Homo sapiens: one gene and its partners. The protein of the gene in region 2 purifies or fractionates together with the protein of the main gene of each other region. This does not show direct contact. Each region holds a gene or a part of one and is shown on either strand. Other genes may lie near its edges. The genes, in order: SGPP1, TM2D2 and ALG8.

What was found.
Region 1: the proteins of TM2D2 (region 2) and SGPP1 purify together in Homo sapiens (affinity purification with mass spectrometry; one large-scale study listed by BioGRID and IntAct). This does not show direct contact.
Region 3: the proteins of TM2D2 (region 2) and ALG8 purify together in Homo sapiens (affinity purification with mass spectrometry; one large-scale study listed by BioGRID and IntAct). This does not show direct contact.

The regions. Positions count from the first base shown.
Region 1 is NC_000014.9:63,721,513-63,725,169, forward strand, and holds part of SGPP1 (sphingosine-1-phosphate phosphatase 1), read right to left. Parts: intron 1-3,657.
Region 2 is NC_000008.11:38,990,781-38,993,538, forward strand, and holds part of TM2D2 (TM2 domain-containing protein 2 isoform a precursor), read right to left. Parts: intron 766-2,758; coding exon 552-765; 3' UTR 1-551.
Region 3 is NC_000011.10:78,133,031-78,136,687, forward strand, and holds part of ALG8 (dolichyl pyrophosphate Glc1Man9GlcNAc2 alpha-1,3-glucosyltransferase), read right to left. Parts: intron 2,318-3,657; exon of another isoform or gene 2,200-2,317; intron 1-2,199.

The DNA of each region.
Region 1 (3,657 bases), on a different chromosome or scaffold from region 2:
TATCGTGCTCCATAAAAAAGAGGCAAGCCAATTCAATTTTTTAATAAACTGTGTTTCTTTCCAGAATTACCATAGTGATCAATTTTTCTTGGATCTTGCAGCCTCCTCTGGTCTTTACTGTGACCTACTTTTGTAACTCTTACTTTTTGCCTTTCTTCCATTTATCTTTTCATGACCTCACAGATATCTTCTTCTATTATTTACAGTAAACAACATTTTGACAGAATATTCTTATGTGTCTTTCTTTTCCAAAGCTCTTACTATGTTTATCAAATTTTTTATTTATATTAGGTGACAAATCAGCATTTGATTTCAGTCAACATCTTCATACATGTTTAAAACACAAATATTTGTGGATGTTGCATATGTATGTACATACACAAACACAAATTATCTTCTCAAGGTATATAAAAGCTATTCTCATATTTTAAGAATACAATCATATATTTCAAAAATAATATTACTGCAAGCATACCTTAAAAATCACACACAAAGTGTGATTTAAAATGAATTTTCTATATAAGCTGCTGAGTCAGTCTGAGCCCCTGACACTTACTGGCTAGGTTACTTTGCTTAAGTTACATAATATAACCTCCCTGTACCTCAGTTTCCTCATCTGTAAACCCATGCTAGTAATAGGAACATTGGGGTATTATAGAAGAGTAAATGAGATAAAAGACATTTCAAACAATGTCTGATTCATAGTAAGTGCTTAAAAATATATATTAACAGCTGGGCGCAGTGGCTCATGCCTGTAATCCCAACACTTTAGGAGTCCAAGGTGGGCAGATCACAAGGTCAGGAGTTAGAGGCTAGCCTGACCAACATGGTGAAACCCTGTCTCTATTGAAAAAAAAAAAAAAAAAAAATTAGCCGGGCGTGGTGGGGCGTGCCTGTAATCCCAGCTACTCAGGAGGCTGAAGTAGGAGAACTACTTGAACCCAGGAGGCAGAGGTTGCAGTGAGCCAATATCGCACCACTGCACTCCAGCCTGGGCAACAGAGTGAGACTCCATCTCAAAAAATAAAAAATAAAAAATAAAAATATTAACAATGCTATAACATTATTATTATAAAATATAATTATTATAATAAAAAGTAGTAAAAGCACACAAAATGAAAGACTAGTTGGCAATGAGTTGTCTATAAAGTAAGTGCTACAGCTAATTTTTAGCAGGGCAAGGTGGCTGACGCCTGTAATACCAGCACTTTGGGAGGCCGAGGTGGGAGGATCACTTGAGCTCAGGAGTTCAAGACCAGCCTAAGCAACATGGCAAAACCCCGTCTCTATAACAAACAAACAAACAAACAAAATTAGCTGGTGGTAGTGTGTGCCTGTGGTCCCAGCTACTTGGGAGGCTGAGGTGGGAGGATCACTTAAGCCTGGGAGGTCGAGGCTGCAGTGAGCCGGAATCGTGCCACTGTACTCCAGTCTGAGCGACAGAGTAAGACCCTGTCTCAAAAAAAAAAAAAAAAAATTAATCTAAAACCTTCTAATTAAATAAAGTATACAGTTAAAACTGATTACATTCCATATTATTTAAAAATTAAATTAATTCAAGTCAAACAGAGCTTTAAAAATTAAGAAATTTTATTTTTGAAAAGAACATGCAAACATAAATGGAAAAGGAACGTCATATTGTTTATCTTATTCTTCAAAGGACTATTTATTGTCTTTATATCAGATGCTCCTTATTTCTTAATTTTTTTTCCAATTCAGGCTACAAAAAATTCCAATGAATAATATGAGAGCAATAACCATTATCCTAGGCAATGGATCTCAAGTTATTTAATCCTTGGGAAAAGGTCATAACATTTTCTATCCTCCATCACCATAAAATTTATATACAAAACTCTTTAAGTAATTACTTGGAGCTATACTATTCCAATCTCTCCTTTGTCTTATAACGTACCTTAAAAAAATTCAGGCAGGGTGCAGTGACTCACGTCTGTAATCCCAGCACTTTGGGAGGCTGAGGGGAGTGGATCACGAGGTCAAGAGATCGAGACCATCCTGGCCAACATGGTGAAACCCCGTCTCTACTAAAAATACAAACATTAGCCGGGGGTGGTGGTGTGCGCCTGTAGTCCCAGCTACTGAGGAGGCTGAGGCAGGAGAATCGCTTGAACCGGGGAGGCAGAGTTTGCAGTGAGACAAGATCACACCACCACACTCCAGCCTGGGTGACAAAGAGAGATTTCGTCTCAAAAAAAAAAAAAATTCAAAGACTGGAATTTCAAAGAAGCTGAGACAGCAATCTTGAAGAAATACAACTAACTCCTCACTCATCTAATGGGTCAGAATCTCTGGGAAACTTACCCTGGGAAATGTAGAAATCTGCATTTTTAAACAACCCCGAGTTTGTACGCTGTCTTTTTTTTTTGAGATAGGGTCTTGCCCTGTCATCTAGGCTGAAGTGCAGTGGTGCAATCACACCTCACTGCAGCCTCAACCTCCCAGGCTCAAGTGATGCTCCCACCTCAGCCTCCCTAGTAGCTAGAACTACAGGCATGCGCCACCATGCCCAGCTGATTTTTGATTTTTTTTTGCAGAGACAGGGTCTCGCTATATTGCCCAGGCTGGTCTCCAACTCCTGGGCTCAAGGGATCCTTCCGCCTCAGCCTCCCAAAGTGCTAGGTGTACAGGGATGAACCACTACACCTGGCCATATACTGTCATTTTAAGTGTAAGTGAGGAATAATGAAACAGAAAGGATTAATTTAAAATGCTCTGGGTGGTGAATCTTGAGCAAATTTCAATGAGGGCAGAAACATTAAGTAGTAGGTAGTAGTGAAGTAGTAAAGCCAAGACAAAGGAATGGTATAGAACTCAGTTTCAAGAGATGTTTCAGCACGCCAGGCATATATAAGTAACCATACCTGTCCCAAATAAGCAGCTGAGGCACAGCAGATAGGCAAGACTGCCAACCAAAACTTATTAGAAAAACACCAGGCTTTCATTATTTAATTCTTCCCCCAGTTTCTAGGGGAAAGGCTTTCTATATAAGCCTCCAATGCAGTACAATACTAATTCACAGAGTAGAGGACCCAAACAGCTGAAGCAAAGGAAGGTACTTTTGTTTTCAATAGATAACAAGGATCTTTAAAAAAAAAAAAAAAAAAAAAAAAAGGAAAAGGAAAAGGAGGCCAGGCGCGGTGGCTCACGCCTGTAATGCCAGCACTCTGGGAGGCCAGTGGTGGGGAGGCCGATGAGCGGGGGGCGGCTAATTTTTTGTATTTTTTAGTAGAGACGGGGTTTCACTGTGTTAGCCAGGATGGTCTCAATCTCCTGATTGAGATCAGGAGATTGCAGAGAGCCGAGATTGCGCCACAGCACTCCAGCCTGGGCAACAGAGCGAGACTCCGTCTTAAAAAAAAAAAAGGAAAAGCTGGCACTTGGGAGGCCAAGGAGGGAGGATAACTTGAGCCCAGGAGTTCGAGACCAGCCTAGGCAATATAGTGAGACCCCGACTCTTAGGGAAAAAAAAAAGGAAAAAGGTTAAAAAGCCATCTTGTTTTTTGTACTGGATTATTAGTCAAACATTTATAAACACAGAACTTTCATATAAAGGAGGCTTAGGCCAGGCGCAGTGGCTCACGCCTGTAATCCCAGCACTTTGGGAGGCCGAGATGGGTGGATCCCCTGAGGTCAGGAGTT
Region 2 (2,758 bases):
TACTGAAAATACTCATACAGTACTCCAAGTTGGTAAAATTTATTCTACATTTAAATTCAGAAAGTCAGAATTTCAGTGTGTATTACAATCCACGGCCATTTCTATTTCTGCTGAAGATTTTCATTGTTCAGCTTCAGATCTCCTTGCATGAAGACTCAGGGTCACAAGAGGAACATGGATCCAAATATTCATTTTGCTCAACTTGTTAGGTCCACTTGCTCCAAAGGACTGAAGATATAGCAATGTACAGAAAGGAAGACTATGGAAACCCATCCACAGCTTGTAAACTCGCCACTATCCTTTATGTTTTGTGCATGAGGAAAGGAACAAATTTGATTCCCCACAACACTTTTTGCTTGTCATTCCGTCTGCAAGGTAAAATCTGGGTTGAAATTCCAAAGTCCAAAGAAGCCTTCTTAACCAAACAAATGCCCTCCAAAAGAAGGAAAATAACATCAGGTCTGATATCAAAGAGGAGTTTTGAGCCTGTAGAGATGAATTCAGAAGACGGAGCTTTCACCCGCCTCCCTGGGCCATGATGGCAGCTCTTCTTAGTAAACAGTGCACCAGTTGCTGCCATCACTTGGCATCAGCCCTCCAGTAATTAGCAAAATAAGGTCAACAAACCACCAAATCCCAAGTCCTCCAAGCGTCAACAGCTTCCCTACTGCAGTGCCAGTGTGTCCCAAACAGAATCGATCCACACCAAAACATCCCAGGAAGAAGGAGTAGAGTAAAGTGGTTATGAAGTAGTGTCCGGTATACCTAGGTGAAAGGAATGAAAAGGAAGATGTTTTACTGCACGAAAATTTAAACCCTTAAGGATTAGTGAATTTAACGTAAGTGATGAGACAGTGCAGTGGACCCTCTGTGGCCTTTTACCCTCCATTTTGTTTTCTTTTATGATATGGTCAGTGAGGTGAGAGGATCAGGAAAAACCAAAGTTTATTATACTCATAGGTCCCAGAGACAGGAGGCACATCATGTTATACAAGGCTACCTGGCAAAGATACCAGGGTGGTTGGAAGATAGAAGGGAGGGGAAGGTTTTTGGCCACTATCTTCATTGGGGTTTCTGCAGGAAAGGCAAGACAGGGCAGGGCGAATAGTTTAGAACTGGCTAGTTTGAATAACCTCAGCAGGCTCTAAGCTATAGGAGTGGTCCCTGGTTGCCTGGCACTTGGACCTGAGAAGACTAAGGCAGAGGAATATTATTTCCTGGGGTGTACAGGCCAGAAACAGAAGATATGTCTCTAGACTAGTTTGCATATCAAAGGCATGCTGCTGGTTGGGCCCTTTGCTATCTCTAAGAAATGACTAGCTTCAGGAAGAGCAGTCTCTTCACAGCCAGAAAGGTTTTTAAGATGTCAAACATCATAATGTACAATAATTTAAAAAACTTTTTGACCATGGTGGTGGCTGATGCCTATAATCCCGGCACTTTGGGAGGCCAAGATGAGAGGACCACTTGAGCCCAGGTGCTCCAGGCCAACCTAGGCAACATAGCGAGACCCTGTTTCTACCAAAAAAAAAAAAAAAAAAAAAAAAAAAGGCCAGGTGTGGTGGAGCACACCTGTAGTCCTAGTTACTCGGGAGGCTGAGGTAGGAGGATCGCTTGAGCCCAGGAGGTCGAGGCTGCAGTGAGCCCTGTTTGTCTGTTTGTGCCATTACACTCCAGCCTGGGCAATGGAACAAGACCCCATCTCCAAAAAAAAAAAAATACGCATTTTTTTATAATACACCCTCTTCACCTTTACTTTACTCTCCTCTAAGAATCTCTAGTTGGTAGAGGGTCTCAACAGAATACTTGCTAAGATATGGAGCATCTCTAAGAACAAATACTGACTTTTGCAGAGTTGGATTGGACAAGAAGTCATCAAGCACATTTGCACAACAGGCACCATGGTAGGAGTAGGAGTCTGGGCTCCCATCCTCCTCTGTAGAGGCTCTTTTCCTGAGACTCAGCTGGCTTCCTGCATGTAGTTCTCTAAGGAAGCACTGTTCTTAAATGAACACTTGATCTCCATACACTCTTTCCTGTTGTTTTGAGCAGCGAAAAGCGAGGACTTCTTCATAAGGCTCTGCCCTTATCCACTGTGCTGACACAGCTGCAGTTACCCTAATATTACTAATCATACTCATAGACTGTTTCCATTAGCAAACTGTACAAGGAAATTCTGTGCCTTCCTTTACCTTAATGATAAACTGATTTTCAGAGTGTGGAGCCTACACTTTTTATAATAAAACCTTTATTCCTGAAATACTAGGGCAATTTGCACAAGATTTATATCTATTGTAGGAATTTTGGGGCTAGATCATCTGGCCCAAAATTCTGTAGATAAGGGATAAACTGAGTGCCCACAGGCACTTAGCAAGTTAGAGAAAGAGACAGTTAGAACTTCACCTTCCGGGCTTAAGTCCAGAGTCCTCTCTACTATAAACATATTGCTTCTGTCAATGAATTATGCACAATGGTAGCCATAGACCCTCTTTGGTGCTTAAAAAAAGTCATATCAAAAAATAACAATGAGCTGAACACAGTGGCATGTGCCTGTTGTCCCAGATACTCGGGAGGCTGAGGCAGGAGGATTGCTTCAGCTCAGGAGGTCCAGGCTGCGATAAGCCATGATTGCACCACTGCACTCCAGCCTGGGTAACAGAGTGAGACCCTGTCTCTTAAAACAAAAAATAAATAAATAAAAAGACAAGGAAAATGGCTCTACCTCCAACCAAGTACCAACTACTCCAATCAAAGTAAC
Region 3 (3,657 bases), on a different chromosome or scaffold from region 2:
TTCATCGTGTTAACCAGGATGGTCTCGATCTCCTGACCTCGTGATCCGCCCGCCTCGGCCTCCCAAAGTGCTGGGATTACAGGCGTGAGCCACCACACCCAGCCTCTTCTTCCTAATACTTAATCCAAATTGTAGTTATGTAACTATATATTTGCATTGATTTGTTTCTTGTACTGTTATACTTACTGAACTACACACTTCACAGGGCTAGGGATCATATCTATTTTTTCCTCCCTTCTAGCCTAGCAACAGTACCTGGTACATAATAAAGCAATTAGTAAATGTTTTGTTGAATATATCTGCATTTATCCTGTAACTTCCCTCTCATATCCCAGGGGTTTCTGGTTTGAGAAACAGAGCATTAACTACAATTAAAAACATTCGTTTTTAAATATATGAAGTGTTTCATAAATTTGCATGCTATCCTTGTGCGTGGACCATGCTAAGCTTCCTGTATCATTCGATTTTAGTGCAGGCATACCTTAGAGATATTGTGGGTTTAGACCACCATAATGAAGTGAATATCGCAATAAAGTGAGTCACATGAATTTTTTGATTTCCCAGAGCATGTAAAAGTTATGTTTACACTGGCCGGCCGCGGTGGCTCACGCCTGTAATCCCAGCACTTTGGAGGCCGAGGCGGGCGGATCACGAGGTCAGGAGATCGAGACCACCCTGGCTAACATGGTGAAACCCCATCTCTACTAAAAATACAAAAAAAATTAGCCGGGCTTGGTGAGGGGCGCCTGTAGGGTCAGCTACTCGGTAGGCTGAGGCAGAAGAATGGTGTGAACCCGGAAGGTGAGCTTGCAGTGAGCCGAGATAGCGCCACTGCCCTCCAGCCTGGGCGACAGAGCGAGACTCCGTCTCAAAAAAAAAAAAAAGTTATGTTTACACTATACTATAAAACGTGCAATACTACTATGTCTAAAAAGACAGCGTACACCTTCATTTTAAAATACTTTATCGCTAAAACAAAGCTAATGATCATCTGCACCTTCGGCAAGTCCTAATCTTTTTGCTGGTGGAGGATTTTGCTTCAATGTTGATGGCTGTTGATTGATCAGGTTTATGGGTGCTGAAGATTGGGGTGACTTGTGGCAAACTGGTTTTTTTTTTTTTTTGAGATGGAGTCTCACTCTTGTCACCCAGGCTGGAGTGCAATGGTGTGATCTTGGCTCACTACAACCTTCGCCTCCTGGGTTCAAGTGATTCTCCTGCCTCAGCCTCCTAAGTGGCTGGGATCACAGGTGCCCACCACCACACTTGGCTAATTTTTGTATATTTAGTAGAGACGGGGTTTCCCCATGTTGGCCAGGCGGGTCTTGAACTCCTGACCTCAGGTGACCCGCCCGCCTCAGCCTCCCAAAACGCTGGGATTACAGGCATGAGCCACTGCGCCTGGCAAGACTGTGGCAATTGCTTAAAATAAAACAACAATGAAGCTTGCCACATTGATGGGCTCTTCCTTTCACAAAAGATTCCTCTAGTATGCAATGCTGTTTGATAGGATTTTACCCACAGTAAAACTTTCAAAACTAGAGTCAATCCTTCTTCTCAAACCCTGCCACTGATTATTAACTAAGTTTATATAATATTCTAAATCCTTTGTTGTCATTTCAACAATATTCACAGCATCTTCATTAGCAGAGTGCATCTCAAAAGAAACCACTTTCTCTGCTCATCCATGAGAAGTAACTCCTCATCCACTCAAGTTGTATCATGAGATATCATGCAGCAATTCAATCACATGCTCAGGCTCCACTTCTAGTTCTCTTGCTATTCCCATGACATCTGCAGTTACTTTTTCCAATGAAGTCTTGAACCCCTCAAAGTTATCCATTGGAGTTGGAATCTAATTCTTCCAAACTCTTGTTAATGTTGATATCTTGACCTCCTCCCATGAATCATGAATGTTCTTAATAGCATCTAGAATGGTTTCAATTTACTTTGCCCAGATCCATCAGAAGAATCACTATCTATGGCAGATATAGCCTTATGAAATGTATTTCTTAAATAACAAGACTTAAAAGTCAAAACTGATTGGGCATGGTGGCTCACGCCTATAATCCTAGCACTTTGGGAGGCCAAGGCAGGCAGATTGCTTGAGCACAGGAGTTCAAAAACAGCCTGGGCAACACAGCAAAAACCCATCTCTACTAAAAATACAAAAAATTAGCAGGGTATGGTAGCACACACCTTAAGTCCCAGCTACTTGGCAGGTTGAGGTAGGAGGATTGCTTGAGCCTGAAAGGTGGAGGTTGCAGTGAGATGAGATCATGCTACTGCACTACAGCCTGAGAGGCAGAGTGAGACCCTGTTTCAAAAAAAAAAAAAAATCAACTACTCAACTGGCTGCAGAATAGATGTTACATCAGCAGGCATGAAAACAACATTAAGGTTGGGCACAGGGGCTCATGTCTGTAATCCCAGAACTTTGGGAGGCAAAGGTAGGAGGATTGCTTGAGCCTAGGAATTCCAGGCCGGCCTGAGCAACACAGTGACCCCATCTCTCCAAAAATACATTTAAAAAAAAAGCCGGGCATGGTGCTCACGCCTGTAATCCCAACACTTTGGGAGGCCAAAGAGAGCAGATCACTTGAGGCCAGGAGTTCAAGACCAGCCTGGCCAATGTGGCAAAACCCCATCTCTACTAAAAATATAAAAATTAGCAGGGCATGATGGTGTGCACCTGTAATCCCAGCTACTTGGGTGGCTGAAGCAGGAGAATCACTCGAACCCGGGAAGCTGAGGTTGCAGTGAGCTGAGATTGTGCCACTACACTCCAGCATGGGAGACAGAGTGAAACTCCGTCTCAAACATAAATAAATAAGAAAAAAAAAAAAGAAAAATAATGGGTGGGTGCAGTGGCTCATGTCTGTAATCCTAGCACTTTGGGAGGCCAAGACAGGTGGATCGCTTGAGGTCAGGAATTTGAGACGAGCCTGGGCAACATGGTGAAACCCCATCTCTGCAAAAAATACAAAAAGTTAGCTGGGTGTAGTGGTGTGCACCTGTAGTTCAAGCTACTTGGGGAGCTGAGATGGGAGGATTGTTTGAGCCCAGGAAGTAGAGGCAGCAGTGAGCTGAGATCATACCAGTGCACTCCAGCCTGACAAAGTGAAACACTGTCTCAAAAAAGAAAAGAAAAAGGAAAAATATTGACCAGTGAGGTGGCTCAGGCCTGTAATCCCAGCACTTTGGAAGGGCTCACTTGAGCCCAGGAGTTCGAGATCAGCCTGGGCAACACAGTGACACCTCGTCTCTACCAAAAAGAAAAAAAAAAAACAAACCAAAACAAAACACACACATATAGATAGATAGACAGACAGATAATAGAGAGAGAAAGGAAAAAAAATTAGCTGGGCATGGTGGCATCTGTCTTTGTCCCAGCTATTCGGGAGGCTGAGGGAGGAAGGCTGCTCAAGCGCAGGAGATTAAGGCTGCAGTGAGCCATGATGGTGCCGCTGTACTTCACCCTGGGAGATAGAGCGAGACCCTGCCTCTAGAAAAAAAAAATGTTTCTGAGCAGTAGGTCTCAACAGTGGGCTTATTCAGTAAACCATGCTGTAAATAGATGTGCTGTCATCCAGGGCTTTGTTGTTCCATTTATAGATCACAGGCAGAGTAGATTTAGCATAAGTCTTAAGGGCCATT